Linked DNA regions of Homo sapiens: region 1 is linked to region 2. Evidence: fine-mapped expression QTL. A gene starts in region 2. The other region holds a variant in brackets. All regions are shown on one strand. Distances are from middle to middle. Region 1 overlaps CENPC (centromere protein C). Region 2 holds the start of CENPC (centromere protein C).

Evidence for each region. PIP is the estimated chance that this variant, and not a neighbour inherited with it, causes the effect.
Region 1: its variant is the best candidate, but not a certain one, in a credible set for the expression of CENPC in whole blood (INTERVAL, PIP 0.55).

Annotation. Positions count from the first base shown.
Region 1 is chr4:67,516,482-67,521,867 of GRCh38, reverse strand. It overlaps CENPC (centromere protein C), which reads left to right. Exons shown (of 19, transcript NM_001812.4): 6 at 2,366-2,651; 7 at 3,500-3,712. Among named protein-coding and RNA genes, the nearest start is that of CENPC, 26 kb to the left of the region's middle. RefSeq lists enhancers at 894-1,393, 1,394-1,895. The variant G/A (reference allele first, on the strand shown) is at 3,329.
Region 2 is chr4:67,542,418-67,547,803 of GRCh38, reverse strand. CENPC (centromere protein C) reads left to right here and starts at 2,301. Exons shown (of 19, transcript NM_001812.4): 1 at 2,301-2,466; 2 at 3,609-3,655. The coding sequence starts at 2,449. RefSeq lists a silencer at 2,017-2,156 and enhancers at 1,979-2,529, 2,307-2,546.

The DNA of each region.
Region 1 (5,386 bases), 26 kb after region 2:
TGACTGGCTTATTTCACTAAGCATAATGTCTTCAAGGTTCATCCATGTTGTAGTATGTGTCAGAATTTCATTCTAAGACTGGGTAATATTTCATTGTATGTGTATACCACTTTTTATCTATTAATCTGTTGATGGGCACTTGGGTTGTTTTCGCTTTTTGGCTATTGTGAGTAATGCTGCTATGAATATTAGTGTGAAAGTATCTCTTTGAGTTCCTGCTTTCAGTTTTAAGTTTTTAAGGATCCACTGTGCACTTTTCATAGTGACTGTCATTCTACATTCACACTAGCAGTGCATGCACAAAGGTTCCATTTTTTTCTACATCAACAGTTGTTATCTTTTGTTTTTATAAATAATAGTCATCCTAATGGGTGTGATGTAGTATCTCATTGTAGTTTTGATTTGTTTTACATCACTGTTATTAGGAAAATTTAAAATAATATTTAAAAATCACTACTTACTGATAATGGCTAATATCCAAAAAACTTTTTTTTAAAAAATGCTACTTTGAGAGTTTCTTTTTCATTTGTTACAAGAGGATTTGTAATTGATTATTAAAGCATTTTATGATGTTTGCTTTAAAATTTATTGTTAAATAATTTTAAAATCTGATTCATCTCATTTATGTCTATTGATCATTATTTCTTACTTTTTTTTTTTTTTGGTTTGTTTTGGTTTTGGTATGACGAGTTGTTTTGATTGTATTCCTGAGATTTGGTTACTTATGTTAGGGGATTCTTAGACTACTTAAATCTTTTGTTACAGCACATAGTTGCCCTATTTTGGTTTAATGTATAGGTTCTTTCCTGTGTTATTTATTTATTTATTTATTTATTTATTTATTTGTTTATTTTTTGAGACAGAGTCTTGCTCTGTCGCTCAGGCTGGAGGGCAGTGGTGTGATCTTAGCTCAGTGCAACCGCCGCCTCCTGGGTTCAAGTGATTCTCATGCTTCAGCCTCCCGAGTAGCTGGGATTACAGGCATGTGCCACTACGCCTGGCTAATTTTTGTATTTTTAGTAGAGATGGGGTTTCGCCATGTTGGCCAGGCTGGTCTTGAACTCCTGGCCTCCAGTGATCCACCCGTTTTGGCCTCCCAAAGTGCTGGGATTGCAGGCATGAACCACTGCGCCCAGCCCCTCTTTCCTAGTTTTATGAGTTTTATTTTCAATGATAGTTAAGTGTTCAGAGTAATAGTGGTATTTTGTTCTACTTCATTTTCTGATGCTGTTAGGATTCTAGCTCAGTTCCTGTTGGTGCTGTCTGGGGTGGGTAGAAGATGCCTTTTGATGTCCATGTTCACTTGTGTGGGGTTCTGGTTAGAAGCTGCTGGTCCTGGGTTTCCTTATATCATTGGGTGGAGGACAGGGGGTTGCTGGCCTCTCTTACGCTGTTCTTGCCTCAGATTAGACTGTCTGCTGGTGCCCTGGTTGTAAAGTAGGGACTGGGATGGCCTGGGGTGTCAATACTATCAGTGGATCAAAATGTTGCCTTGGGCTGTGAAGGTCAGGGGTTTCACTACTCTACAGCTTCATGTGGGTCATACCGCCTGCCATCTATGATTGTAGAAGCGGGACTGGCTTGGTATGAGCTCCTTTACTGCTACAGTCCCATAGCACAGCCCAGGGCTTTGTTGCTTTGCCAATGCAGGTAGTAAGGAGTGCTCCATGGCCGAGAGTGCTGAATGGGGCTTGAGTTTCCTCATTAGGTCTTCGGTGGGTTTACCTTGTTCAGAGAATGCATTTCCACCCAGCCTCCACCCTGTCTTTCACCTATTGGTGGTTACAGGTTATACTAGCAACCAGTCCAGGGGTATATGGGAGACAGACAGAAAACCTAAGGCTTGTCTGTTTCTGGTCTTGAGCTTCCTAGCTAGTCTACCTTTTTTTCTTCCAGCTTTCAGAGTCCTGTTGTTGATTGATGGATAATTTCCAGGGAAGTTAGTTGTATTTAGAGGGAGAAGCAGGGAAATGCCATCTCGTTCTGAAGGGTGAGGGTTAAGAGAATATGGATACATTCTTTTAAATTTTCTCATTATAGATAAATGTTCATATACATATATACTGTGTATGTATATATACACACATGCTTATGTTGTATCTCTCTATATCTGTTATATCTATATTCCATGTGTGTATGTGTAAATATATCATCTAGCTGCCCTAGGTCACCAATTTTTAGCCCAAAGATAGAAGAATCTTAAGTACTTACTTATTTTAATCATAGATCTTTGATTCTAATCTTAATGACTTTGAGTTTTCTGAAAACTATTTCTGATTAAATTATTGCAGAATTTTTAAAAAGCCTGCTTGATTCTCTTATTATTCTTTTAATTGACAAATATCTTTATATAATTTTCTTCTAGTTCAGGCCCATGAAGTTCATCAGAAAATTCTGGCAACTGATGTTAGTTCCAAAAATACACCTGACTCGAAAAAAATATCAAGTAGAAACATAAATGATCATCACAGTGAAGCTGATGAAGAATTTTACTTATCCGTTGGCTCACCTTCTGTTCTTTTGGATGCAAAAACATCTGTATCACAAAATGTTATTCCATCTAGTGCCCAAAAGAGAGAGACTTACACTTTTGAAAATTCAGTAAATATGCTGCCTTCAAGTACAGAGGTTTCAGTTAAAACCAAAAAAAGGTAACATTTTATTTAAATAATGTTAACGCACTTTAAAAATTTTACTTTTTGTATTAAAAAATGGTAATTCAATCTTGTTATATTATTTTACACTAAGGAAGGAGGAATATTAACATGTTATGAGAAAGTATACATTTAGCATATATTCAGTTTGTAATAATTAAGGAAGGGCTTAAAGTGTACTTCAGAGAAGTTTAGAGGTTAACTTTTCTATAGTCTGGAATAATGTGTTTTCTCTCTGATAATATTTGATTGCTTCCTAAGAGAAACAATTTGTATTTTCTCAATATTTTTTGTAATTGCAAGTGTAGATGTGTATCAGGTCACTTCAAGGGTAGCAGAGCATAAGTATTATTGAGGATGCTATGCTTTGTGGACAGCTGGTTTCTCTTTCTTGACCTTACCTTTGGCCTTTAGGAAACAAAGTGGATTCAAGGTCTTTTGCATTTGGAGATCTCTGTAATGAGTGTAATTTCTATTTAGAGTATTGTATGATTACTGGAGCCAAGGAGTTAAGTATATTCTAAGACTTTGATATTCAAAGTTTGGTCTGTCACAGTGCTCTAAGATTGCCCTGAGAACCATTGCCTAGCTATACATTTCATTGATGTATACTTTAGCCATTATTTTCTCTTTCATGTTTTTCTATTGATAAATACAAAAGTTAATTTTCCTGA[G/A]CAGTTTATCTTATGTATTTGGAATGCACAAATCAGCATTTATGTCTTAAATAAATGCCTAGTACAGAATTTTAAATTGGTCTGTATTGTCTCTGTAAAGGAGTTCAGGAAGACTTATAACTCAAGAAACGTTACGGGAGCATTCAGCTTACCCTCCTTTTAACCTTTTAGGTTAAACTTTGATGATAAAGTTATGTTAAAGAAAATAGAAATAGATAATAAAGTATCAGATGAAGAGGATAAAACATCGGAAGGACAAGAAAGAAAACCATCAGGATCATCTCAGAATAGAATACGAGATTCAGAATATGAAATTCAACGACAAGCTAAAAAAAGTTTTTCAACATTGTTTTTAGAAACAGTAAAACGAAAAAGTGAATCCAGGTGAGTTATTAAGAAACTGCCCTTTGAGACATTTTTCTTTTATATTCTATGAACCATATATAAGGATTCCTAATGCTATTTAACTTAGAAATAAGTAATTTAATTAACAAAAATTTTAATTGAAATTTTTTCTGACCTGTAAGGAGAGATGGTTTTTTACCAGTCAGTGAGTCACTCCCAAAGCCATTTTTTAATAGATACTAAATTAGACTTGAAAGAAAACAAGTTTATTCAGTTTTCATTGCCTTCTGGTTTGTCTGTGTGATATCAAAGACTGAAGTCAATGCAGTATTTATGTATGTATGTATGTATTTATTTTGAGACAGGGTCTCGCTCTGTCTTCCAGGCTGGAGTGCAGTGACGCAATCTCGGCTCATTGCAACCTCTCCCTCCTGGGTTCAAGAGATTCTCCTGCTCAGCCTCCCGAGTAGCTGGGATCACAGGCACCTGCCACCACGCCTGTCTAATATTTGTATTTTTAGTAGAGATGGGATATCCCCATGTTGGTCAGGCTGGTCTCGAACTCCTGACCTCAGGTGATCCATCTGCCTCGGCCTCCCAAAGTGCTGGGATTACAAGCTTGAGCCACCGCACCCGGCCGACAATGCAGTATTTAGAAATCGTTATGTTAGGCTGCCCTTATGTCACTATCATAGGTATCAGAGTGCTAGTGAATATACTAGGAAGTTTTTATTGCTGGGCGCGGTGGCTCATGTCTGTAATGCTAGCACTTTGATAGGCCGAGGCGGGTGGATCACTTGAGATCAGAGGTTCAAGACCAGCCTGACCAACATGGTGAAACCCCATCTCTACTAAAAATACAAAAATTAGTCGGGCTTGGTGGCACATGCCTGTAATCCCAGCTATTCGGGAGGCTGAGGTAAGAGAAACACTTGAACCTGGGAGGTGGAGGTTGCAGTGAGTCGAGACGGTGCCACTGCACTCTAGCCTAGGTGACAGAGTGAGACTCAGTCTCAAAAATAAAAAGGAAGTTTTTATAAAAACATGTTAAATGAATGAATGAAATTCCCCTTTTGTTCAGTCTCTGCTTCCTGTAGTTGATTAATTATTTTTATGTGTATATTTTAAACCTCATATGGATATTGTCACCACCATCTGAAACAAATGCGTTATACTTGTGGGCTAATTATATAATGTCTGAGAAATTATTTTTTAATGTTCTTTTTGATACTCTAGTGAGTAAAGTTCATCTTATGTTTAATTGTTGTAGTCAAATATAACTATTCATTATTCCCAGTGCTTTCTAGCATCATTGCTTCCACTTATGCTCTTCCTTTTGATTGTCTTTCTTGCATTTCCTTGTGACCAAATCTTAGAAATCCTCCAAGATCTAGCCTAAATGCTACAAAGCGTTTCATAGTTTTTGTAGCTAATTAGAAGCCATCTTTCCCTATTGTAAACTTTCATAGTGTCAAGATTGTTTCCTAAGGATATCATTTCTGTTTAACATCCATTCATTGTAGTATTTGTATTGACTTTGTTCTTTATTAGTTTTTATAGAGTTTTCTAATTATATAAGTTTGTGAAACTCTACCATTAGAGAGTATATTTTTTAGAGTATTTGCTATTTTACATTATAAGATTTGTCAGGAGTTTGCGATTAGAGGAATAGAGAAGGCATTTTCATTTCTGATTCCTTGTGTATGTTCTAAT
Region 2 (5,386 bases):
ATGTTAAGCTGTGGGGTGGGAATGAATACAGACTAATTTTTAAGTGTTAGTTCAGTTGTGAATATTTTTGTGCTAACACTTAATGGAAGACACTTTGGTAGTAAATACCCATACCATAGTTATTTGATGGAAATCAAAGATCTAAAACAAAATATTCTTTGAAATAGTTTCAAGATTTACAAATTTTAAATTATGTACCTAAAACCATAAGTAACGAAAAGTTTTTTTTACTTCTCTTTCAAGCCAAATTTCTGGATACTTTATGTTCCCATATACACATCTAATTATGTATATGTTAATACTTCCATATACTGATATGTAAATACACACATGCACACACACCCCTTAACTAGGTAAGTAGTTGTGAAAGAAAACTTCAAGATTGTCCTAGCAGTTCATAAGAAGTAATCTTTGATGTATTTTGGGGGGAGATTTATAACGACAAACTTGGGTTTTTAAATAAATATTACTCCCCCCATTAATTAGCAATCCTATTTTAGGATACTAAAACCATGGTGGGCTATTAAGTACTACAACAAGTACATATGGAAGTAAAACGTTTCTCTGGAAACTGTGGAGTCTCCACAACTGTTTTTATAAGAGTACTGCTCTATTTTCTTTAGAACAGTTAATCCTCAACGCCCTCTGTGGCCTGCTTTCTGCAGCAGCACAAGCCATTGCATTCCAAATTTCTCAAAATAAGTGTGGGACTTAGTTTCCAGTGGAAGCAGGAGGATATAATTTTACATGTGGGACTTTACATCTATAATCGTGCTTGCTAAAATTTCTTACCCAGAGGCAAAGAGTGTAGTGATTAAGAGCTCAGTTGTGGAGTGAGAATTCTTGGGATAATAACCCATCCTACCATTTAGTGGTGATGTGATCTTGGGTAAGACACTTAGCTCTCTGTGTTTCAGTGCCCTTGTTTATAAAACAGGAATATTAATTGTTCTCTTCAATGCATGCAAAGCATTTCAGAACTGGGCATAGAGTATGCAGTCAATAAATGTTAGTGTTTATCATTATCTATTCCAAATGTGACAGCACCAAATTATAAGTTGGACTGATTGGCAAAACTGCCAAACATAGTAAAAAACTCTCCATAATGATTCCAATAGCTTTATTATTGAATTCTTACTATGTTCCAAACATTGTGCTTAGATCTTAACAGGAATTATTCAATTACAACATCTCAACCACTTTAATAGTATTCTCATTTTGCAGACAAGAGAATTAAGGAACAGATAACTTAGTTGCCCATAATGGCAGAATTAATGGAATGGAGTGCAATCCAGGCCTAATTTCAGTCAGAGATCATAGTTCCTTTTTTTCTATCAAAAAAATAAATAAAATAAAAAAATTGGCCTTCATAGTTGACAGCATTTGTTAAAGCACTACATGTTTTAAAAATCTATTAGCTCAACTCCTGATTAATGTATTTATTCAATTAGTAAACTATTTTCTGATTAGAATTTTCTTGTAATTTTAAATTAAATAATAAAATAAGATACAGCTTCATAGAATCATACACTGGTCAGGTGAGAAGTCTTCAGAGCGTCTAATTTAGACTTCCATTCTATCACTATGGAAACACCCAGAATGGTGCCGCAATTTTGCCCTCCATAACATAGCTAGTCAATGGCTGGCAGGTTTCAGGATTCTGTATAGAATTCTTTTCAGTGCATCATACTTAAATGATAGATATTTACGTGGGTCATTTGTTGGCAATGCATCATAAAAATATCGCCCACATACTTGAAAAAGAATACAAGCCATCATCACCATTATTATACATAATTATTCAATTATTTTCAGAGATGATGGTTAGATGGGCTGGGCGTGGCTGACGAATCTGCATTAGAAAAATCTCTTCAAAAAAAGATTCTATTAAAAAAAAAGTCGTCTGCAATTTCTACCTCTCATCCTTCCAAGTATTACTTATTATTCCTTAATAGAACTGTTGAGAAGTTTTACATTGGGCACAAGGAGCGGTTCCCAGGATCGTGCCTTCCTAATAAAAGCCCAGTCTCGCGCCTGTCCCGGGCGCGGCGCTGAGGAAGGGAGGTGGGAAGAGCAGAGCGGCTAGAGGTAGGGCGGGCGGGTGGGTCTGCAGGCTGGAGGGCCGTTGGCCTGGAGCATGAAGGGGCGAGCCCACTAACGGCTTGCTTCCTATTGGACGGCGCGGCCCGTTTTGCGCATGTGTCTCCGGGTTCAAACCCAGGCACAGGCCAAGCGTTCTTGTTTGTTGAGGGCGGAGCCAATGGCGGGGGAGTGTTGTTAGCGCGCGCCTTCCGGATCGCAGCTCTCGCGGCAGTCGCCTGAGACTTAAGGTTATTGCTTGGCCGCGGCCTGGTATTCCGGCGATTCGTTTCTTGCTCGGCTTCCTGGAGCTGTGGTCCGTGTGGGCTTCCACCTCAGACAGTTGCGCTGGCTCAGCGGGGCCGGAACATGGCTGCGTCCGGTCTGGTAAGTGCAGGCCCCCCGCTCCAGGCGAGTGGTTGAGCGGCTGGCTGGGGCACGGGCGCCCGAGGCTGGGGAGAAGGAAATGCTAGGCTGAGGCTGTGATCTCTGAGGGATTTCAGTGGGAAAGCCGCAGGAATTTTTGAAATCAAGTGTGATCGTGTGTCGATAACCAGAGTTAATTTACTGTACTTTTATTATTTCTTAAGTTTTCATGTCGTCATTTCGTCTGTGCCTACGTCTTACTCTTGAGAGGTGCTTGTGATTTCTGCTGGGTTTTTTTTTGTTTTTGTTTTTGAGACGGGGTCTTGCTCTGTCCCCCAGGCTGGAGTGCAGTGGCGCGATCTTGGCTTCTGCTTTTTAGTCTAGCTCCAGTTCCTAGGCCTCCAAATAACTTTTCTCCCCATGGTAGAAGTATTGAAACGCCTTAAAAGTGTGTCTTTGCGTCACACTTGGTAGTTGGGAGAAACAGATTATGTAACAAGTACGTCTCGAAATAATTTGACGTTTTCAGTTCTTCTGTCAAAATGGTGGCCTTTTATGCAGTTCTTGAGGCTGATTTATGGAGCATATGTTATTGACAAACTCTTCTGAAAGACAGCTATCAGTTAAAAGGTACAAGCTGTGAATGACTAATGGGGGCGACAACTCATTTTGTTTACATATTTCTGGACTTCTTTGGTGTTCACTATTCTATATTTCATACTTTGGTTATGGTTACTATATAAAAATCCGTATCATTTCTTTTCTAATTTATCTCCCCTTCTAAGAAAATCTTCAGCTTCGATGATCTCCCATTATGTGACGTTATACATATAAACATAAAGAGTTGTATGAAAGAATAATATAATCTATACTTTTTACTATGAGCACATATATTGTTTACATTATATATAATCAGAAGAAAGCAATAAAGCCATTCTCACTGTGGGGAGAGAAGCGGAATAAAGCTTACCAGATGCCTGCAGTTCAGTTTTTAAATGCCTGTCATAACCTATGTTATGTCATAACATAACCTCAAAATTGTTTTGAGCCCTTAGGAGATGTTTGGTGTATAGCATGCCCATACTGGATGAAGTTACTTTGAAAATAAATTTTACTCGACTCTATCTTAAAGAAACCAAATTGATGATTTACTTTTCTTTCAGGATCATCTCAAAAATGGCTACAGAAGAAGATTTTGTCGACCTTCCAGGTGATTTACGTACTTAAGCTTTTAAGATTATTTTTATTCTCATCGTTAATAGATTTTTAAATGAAGAAAGGAAAAACTATCACCTCTGACTAATATAATGATTTCTGTGCCCACTGATTAAGGGTAGTCATCTTATACTAACGGGAATGTTAATGCAAGCAGTGCAATGACTTTGTGGCTGTGAAAAAAGAAATTCACCTGATAAAATAGTGGAACCAGGAAGAGGGAGTCTCAGTTCTGACTAAGTGACTGCCATGGGAAAAGCATTTTGTAGAATGAATCAAATGGTAAAATTAGAAAGATGTAGCTTATTCAGTGGGGCAAAAAGAAAAATAGTACATGCTGTCGTGCATTTGTTGAGTGCTTGTTTGGGTTGTTTTGGTTCTTCTTTTAGTTGTAAAACCTGTAAAAAGTAAATTTTCTAGTTAAATATTTACTAGTAATAGGATGAAAAGCATGTTTTTAAAAGTGAAGATGTTATTATGAATAACGTCATGTTTATTGAGCTGTGATTTTAGTAGGTCCAATGGGGCACAGAAGTATGTTCTTTTGTTTACAAGAAGCTTAGATTTCTGTTGGGAAAATGTATATGTACATTTGTGAAACAATTTAATGGACAAAAATTATTACTTGCAATACTGAAGTAATGACTTGTGTATCATAGAGAGTAGGCCTATATATAATTAGGCATTAACTTGCAGTATAGACAGCCATGTGAGAAATTAGGGATTTGTGTGTTGTTGATATTAAGAAAAGCTTTAAAGTTGTAGTGTAACTTTGGTGGACCTTGAACAGGTATTTAAAGACTAAGATAAAGTATATTCCAGACATAGAAAGTAACTTAACGAAGGAACCAAAGTAGGAATACATATATTTGTCAGTAGCAGAGAGACCTGATTTAAGAAGGTTGAATATGTTGGGTAGAAGTGGAAAACAAGACCATATGAGTTGGATTGAGCCATAAAATGGATATGTTAGGCTTTAGGCATCTATTATAGGCTTGAATAAGCTCTCCTAAATCTTCTGTGGAATAAGGGCTATCTGATATAAACACACACACACATTTAAAAAAGCAAAGATGTTTGATGTTTACAAAGTAGCTTAAGGAGGGTGTTGTAGTAATCTACACATGGTGGAGGTGCTTTTATGCTAAGGTAATAATGACAAAGGGGAAGAAAAGACGAATTTGATAAATTTTGAAAAAGCTGTTGCCTAATGTGACCTGCGTTCTAATAGTGACTCTGCATTATCACCTTGGCAAATCTGATCTTTTTGGATCTCATCCTTGAAACAGGTAATAGCAGGAGTGTATTTATAGCTGTGCAATATGTGCACCTGTAGGTGGTATTTTGGGGTGATGTCAAGGCCAGAATTTATAATAGTCACCTATATATATTCTGGTAGAAAACCGGCCACTAATACTACTTAGGTTTACAAACTGAGGTAGGCCATTTGACCATTTTGGGTTTCAGTTTGCCTATCTGCAAAATGAGGGCATAGGATTCAGCTAGGGGTTTTTAACTAGATTTGCACATCAGAATTACCTCCATCACCCTAGGAAATCTAATTAAATTGGTTTGTGGGAAGTGACCAATTAAGTGTATTTCTGCAAAGCTCCAAAAGTAACTTTACACATCTATTTGGATGATGATTATTGGACTGGATGATTTCTGAGATCTTTCAGTTATAAAACTTTATGATGGATGACCTGATAATGCACTGTGGCTCACA